2 separate regions of the Homo sapiens genome follow, and region 2 is linked to region 1. Evidence: fine-mapped expression QTL. A gene starts in region 1. The other region holds a variant in brackets. All regions are shown on one strand. Distances are between the middles of the regions. Region 1 holds the start of USP11 (ubiquitin specific peptidase 11). Region 2 has its middle 44 kb from the start of ZNF157.

The links. PIP is the estimated chance that this variant, and not a neighbour inherited with it, causes the effect.
Region 2: its variant is fine-mapped to the expression of USP11 in tibial nerve (GTEx, PIP above 0.99).

What each region holds. Positions count from the first base shown.
Region 1 is chrX:47,231,409-47,234,320 of GRCh38, forward strand. USP11 (ubiquitin specific peptidase 11) reads left to right here and starts at 1,601. Exons shown (of 21, transcript NM_001371072.1): 1 at 1,601-1,811. The coding sequence starts at 1,636. RefSeq lists a cis regulatory region at 1,256-2,478 and enhancers at 1,481-1,530, 1,956-2,539.
Region 2 is chrX:47,324,939-47,327,850 of GRCh38, forward strand. No RefSeq gene overlaps it. Among named protein-coding and RNA genes, the nearest start is that of ZNF157, 44 kb to the right of the region's middle. The variant T/C (reference allele first, on the strand shown) is at 1,419.

The DNA of each region.
Region 1 (2,912 bases):
TCTGGGAAGTGGTAGGGTCACTGGTGTGGGCAGAGGTTGGCCTCTGGAAGGTGGAAAAAAAAAAACGGTCTAGGGCTGGGAAAGGAGGTCTCTTGGATTTACCTGGCTGCCCAGATAAATGGGGAGGGGGAGTCTGCAGAGGGGCAATGGGGAGAATCAATTCAGAGAATCTGACAAGATTCAACTGGGCTTGAAGAGCAGCTATCTGCCATGTGTCTGACTCAACTCAAATGCCACTTTCTTTGGGGACCCTTAAGTGAAAGGCCTGCTCCCTTTCCTCACCCAGAGCTTACACAACTGAGTTTGTGACCCCTCATCTATGCCAGGTCTGGGCTGGGGGCTGGAATCACAGTAATAAAGACACAATCCCTGCCCCGCAGAGATTAACTGAAAATAGGTAAATTATGAAATTGTGAGGGGGAAGGGAGGTTCGAAATTAAAGTCATCATCAACGGGGCTGGCAGCCCCAGCAGAGGAAAGAATAGCATAGCCTAGAGCAGTGGTTCTCAACCAGAGACATTTTTCCCCCAAAGGACATTTGGTAATGTCTGGAGATACTTGGTTGTCCTGAGGGGTACTACTTGGTATCTAGTAGGTAGAGGCCAGGGATGCTGCTACATATCCTGCAATGCCCACAACAAAGAAATGACAGTGCTGAGGTTGAGAGACCCTGGCCTAGTCCAAGGGTTCTCAAACTTTGGGTCTCGGGATTCCTTTATGTTCTTAAAAGTTTAAGATATTCAAAAGAGTTTTTGCTTATGTCATATAGCCTCTGGATTCAGAAGCCTCTGGATAATCACACTGTACACCCCTGAGAGAATGAGAGTGAAAAAGTATTGTGAAAATAGTTTTCATTTTGTGAAACCCCAAGAGGATTTTTGGACCGGTAGACAGGCTGGGACCACTGGGACCACACGGTTGGAGAATGTTTGGCCTGGTGTTTAAGGTCACAGCTCTGAAACCAGATTTCTCAAGTCTAAACTGCAGCTCCACCACTAATTAGCTGAGGGACGTTTCTGGTACTCAGCGTCCCCATTGTTACCCATGGGTGACAAGGACAGTACCTGCTGCCTGAGGCTACTATTTTAGTCCAATAAAGCACTTAAACTGGGCGGACAGCTAGTTTAGTTATGATTGCTATGACTCCAACAAACATAGGGCCTGGGGCTAACTTGTCTTCAACACCTTGTCTAGTGAATAAATCTAGTTCAGGAAGAGAAACAACAGCCCGCAGGCCTCGGTGGGTCTCTGGAGGTGGAAACCTCTTTTGCATTGGGTTTTGATGGTACAATGAAGGGCATTCTGATCAGGCTAACAAAAACACTGCTCCCAGGGTAGGAGTCCTAGCCCACCTCGGGAACCTCAGCCTCCACTTTCCATGCCACCTGTGCCCTAAGTCTACAGGGCGTTAGGACCCCACAAGGCACTTTTGTCTTTCTTGGTTCCCACTGAAGATTTTACCCCACCTAGCCCTTCGACGCGTCTGTGCACGGGGCCATTTCCAATATGGCAGTAGCCCCGCGACTGTTTGGGGGGCTCTGCTTCCGTTTCCGGGACCAGAATCCGGAAGTGGCTGTTGAGGGGCGTCTTCCAATCTCGCACAGCTGCGTTGGCTGTAGAAGAGAACGGACGGCGATGGCGACGGTCGCAGCAAATCCAGCTGCTGCTGCGGCGGCTGTGGCGGCGGCAGCGGCGGTGACTGAGGATAGAGAGCCACAGCACGAGGAGCTGCCAGGCCTGGACAGCCAGTGGCGCCAGATAGAAAACGGCGAGAGTGGGCGAGAACGTCCACTGCGGGCCGGCGAAAGCTGGTGAGGCTGGGCTGCGGTGGAGCCTCGGCAGAGGGAACGGTGGGGGCATTGACAACCGCTGGGGATTCGGCGGCCGAGGGCCGCGGGAAAGCTGCTGCGGGGTGCGGGGGCGGGGGAGTGGCCGGCGGGACAGCGGGCTAAAGGGGCGGGGAAGTGCCTTTGAATGAATCGCAACGTCTGGAAAAGGGGCGGGGCCTGTGTGGTGCAGTCTGACGCCTGAGAACAAAATGGGGTTTGTTGTGATGAGACCAGTTTCGGTCCTGGAGGTGGGGCCGGGCCTGCGTAGTGAAACTGCGTAGGAACCTGGGAAGAAGGTGGGTTCTGCTACATAAGGCGGGGGCGCGGCCTGCGCTGCGTAATGCAACTTTTGGGGGCGAGGAGCGGTTTCCGATTGCTCCGGGGCGGCTGGGAACGAGGCGAGCTTTGTGACGTCAGCAGAAGAGCGGGATGGAGCCGAACGGTCCGAGGGAGGGAGCGGGGACCTCCGTGGGGGAGGGGGGAGGAGCCTGGAGCCTGGGAACGAGGTTAGGTTGGTGACGTGAGCTGAGGGGCGTGCTCTGAGGCCGAGGGACGACAGTGGAGGGGAGGTGGTGCCTATGAGGCAGAAAATGGCGCCTGCGAATAAGCAAAGTTTATGACGCGCCGTGGTTTTTGATTCTGGCGGAAGCCTTCCCGAGTCGAGAGAACGTGCAGGTGATTAGCACCGGAGGGGCCTTCCATGTTTAATTGGTTTTCTGTGTTGGTACTGTTTTGTTTTTAGAATCAAGAAAAAGTCGTTTTTTTAAAAAATAGAATTTTGATAAATCGGCTTGTTTTACTGATTTCTTGCTAAACAGTCCTTCTTGAAATTTACTGCTTCTGAGTTCATTTTATTTCTCGCCGAGTTGCATCTCGTTTTTTAATTGTGAAATACGTAAGACTTAAAAAGATTATATAAAACATTTACGCAGCCCAGATTGACGGACATCCTGTTAAAATAAACGGCCTACACTCTTCAAAAATGTCAGGATCATGAAAGACAAAGGCTGAAGAACTGTTCCAAATTGAAGGAATTAATGCAATTTAACGAGTCATGATAACTAAATGCAACATGTGATCCTC
Region 2 (2,912 bases), 94 kb after region 1:
TAATCTCAGCTCACTGCATGCAACCTCTGCCTCCCAGGTTCAAGTGATTCTCCTGCCTTAGCCTCCCAAGTAGCTGGGATTATGGGTGCATGCCACCACACCCGGCTAATTTTGTGTTTTTAGTAGAGATGGAGATTCGCCATGTTGGTCAGGCTGGTCTCGAACTCCTGACCTCCAGTGATCCACCTGACTCAGCCTCCCAAAGTGCTGGGATTACAGGCGTGAACCATTGCACTTGGCCTTTTTATTTTTATTTTTCTTTCTTTCTTGTTTTTTTTTTTTTTTGAGATAGAGTCTCGCTCTGTCACCCAGGCTGGAGTGCAATAGTGCGATTTCGGCTCACTGTAACCTCTGCCTCCCAGGTTCAAGTGATTCTCCTGCCTTAGCCTCCCAAGTAGCCGGGATTACAGGCGTCCGCCGCCATGCCCAGCTAATTTTTTGTATTTTTAATAGGGATGGCGTTATGCCATGATGGCCAGGCTGGTCTCAGAGTCCTGACCTCAGGTGATCTGCCTGCCTTGGCCTTCCAAAGTGCTGGAATCACAAGCGTGAGACACCGCGTCCAGCCCCAAACCATTTGAAAGTTAGCTGCACACAGTAATACCTTTCAATTCTAAATAATTCTAAATAATTCCCTAATATTCTAAATACTTCCCTAATATTGCTTAATATCCAGTCCATATTTAATTTTCCCCAGTTGTCCTATACATCTTTTTTTTTTTTTTTTTTTTTTTTTTGAGACGAAGTCTCACTTTGTTGCCCAAGCTGGAGTGCAGTGGCGAGATCTCGGCTGACTGCAACCTTCACCTCTCGGGTTCAAGCGGTTCTCCTGCCTCAGCCTCCCGAGTAGCTGGGACTACAGACATGTGCCACCATGCCTGGCAAATTTTTGTATGTTTAGTAGAGACAGGGTTTCACTATGTTGACCAGGCTGGTCTTGAACTCCTGACCTTGTGATCCGCCCCCCTCGGTCTCCCAAAGTGCTGGGATTACAGGCATGAGCCACTGCGCCCGGCTCCCATACATCTTTTATAACTTTTTTAAAACACAAGACTAAGTCCAGGCTCATTTATTCCATACGGTTGCACCTCTTTAGTCTGTTAAACTAAAACAGTGTGTTCATTTTATTTTTATTAATTAATTATTTGTTTTTTCAGACGGAGCCTCCCTTTTGTCATCCAGGTTGGAGTGCAGTGGCACGATATGGCTCAATGCAACCTCTGCCTCCTGGGCTCAAGCGATTCTCTTGCCTCAGCCTCCCAAACAGCTGGGACTATAGGCACCCACCACCATGCCCGGCTAATTTTTGTATTTTTAGTAGAGAGAGGGTTTCGCCATGTTGGCCAGGTTGGTCTCGAACTCCTGACCTCAGGAGATCCACCTGCCTTGGCCTCCCAAAGTGCTGGGATTATAGGCAG[T/C]GTGTTCATTTTAAATATGCCGACCCCCAGCACTTAAAGACGCCTGTAATCCCAGCATTTTAGGAGGCTAAGGCAGGAGAATCACTTGAGTTCAGGAGTTTGAGATCAGCCTGGACAGCATAGTGAGACCCCCTTCAATCTCTACAAAAATAAAAATAAAAATATTAGGCAGGCATGGTGGCAGTGTTTTGTTTTGTTTTGTTTTGTTTTGTTTTTGAGACAAGGTTTCACTCTGTCACCCAGGCTTGAGTGCAGCAATGCAATCTCAGCTCTCTGTAGCCTTGGCCTCCCAGACTCAGATGATCCTCCCATCTCAGCCTCCTGGCAGATCACTTGAGACTGGGAGTTCAAGACCAGCCTGGGCAACATAGCAACACCACCTCTTGATTATAACATTATTACTTTTTGAAAAATGCCACCAGTTCATGTATTTAGACAACTTTATCACTATTGCTCAGGGGAAAAGCCTGTCTTGGTCTAGGAGAATTCCACAGAACATACTTTTATTTGGTAAAGTGGGAAATTCTAGGATCTGGTAGTGCATTAATCTAGTTACCAAAATGATACCACTCATACCACGCTTGGATTAGTAACTTTTCAAATAATTTGGAAACAAACAAAAAAACCGTTTAACATTAAAATTGAAAATAATTCCAACTTTGTTTCACTTGAAGAAGGCGGGTCCCAATCCTGTTGTGTTGCCAGTGTCCACGTTCCAGCTTTTTGCTAATCAACAAAGCCATCCTTTCTGTCTCACAAACTGTTCCCTGGACGTTTCACAATCTTTGTTGCACGCATTAGGGCTTTGTGGGTGATGATAAAAAGGGGATGTTTTGTTTCGTTTTATCATTAGGACCTTTAAAAGAGTAGCAAGTTATTCTGCTGGACTTCCCAAAATGTAGCTGGGAAGAACAATATAGCCGATCAAAAGCTGAAAATTACTTTCAAGGACTCAGGAAGGGAACGTGTGGTACGTGCTGCATGGTATCTGTTAAAATAGCCACTGTGCTGAAATCCCTTTGTGGGGAAAGGTAGAGATTTTTACAAATTCAAGACAAAATGTTACTTCTCTGGGTATGACCACAGTAACAAGGACACAGAAAAATAGGTCAGAACCAGAGGAAAGATGGGGTTATCTGTCCTGAGAATCAAAGCCTCCTATGGATCCTCACTCTGAGAGTGCCTGGGAATAAGAAGCTGAGTTTCATTGACAGCAGCAGGAAGTGCAGAGTGAGAAAAGCAGGAAGAAAGTTCTAGTAGCCACAGAAGTTAGTTGCTTTGACCACGGGCATGATACCAGAATTTCAGAAGTGACAGAAAAAGCAGGCAGACAGATGGCAGAGATGTTTGCTGGAACCCTCAAGCCCTAAGGAAGAGTCTTGATTATGTTATCATCACTTCTGAACACTTTAGTGACCATAGCTTTCAGTCTGTGAGGAAAAGCCCTGCTGGCCTTTGAGACTGGTGTGAGGGACTGTCCTGCTCTGGGAAATG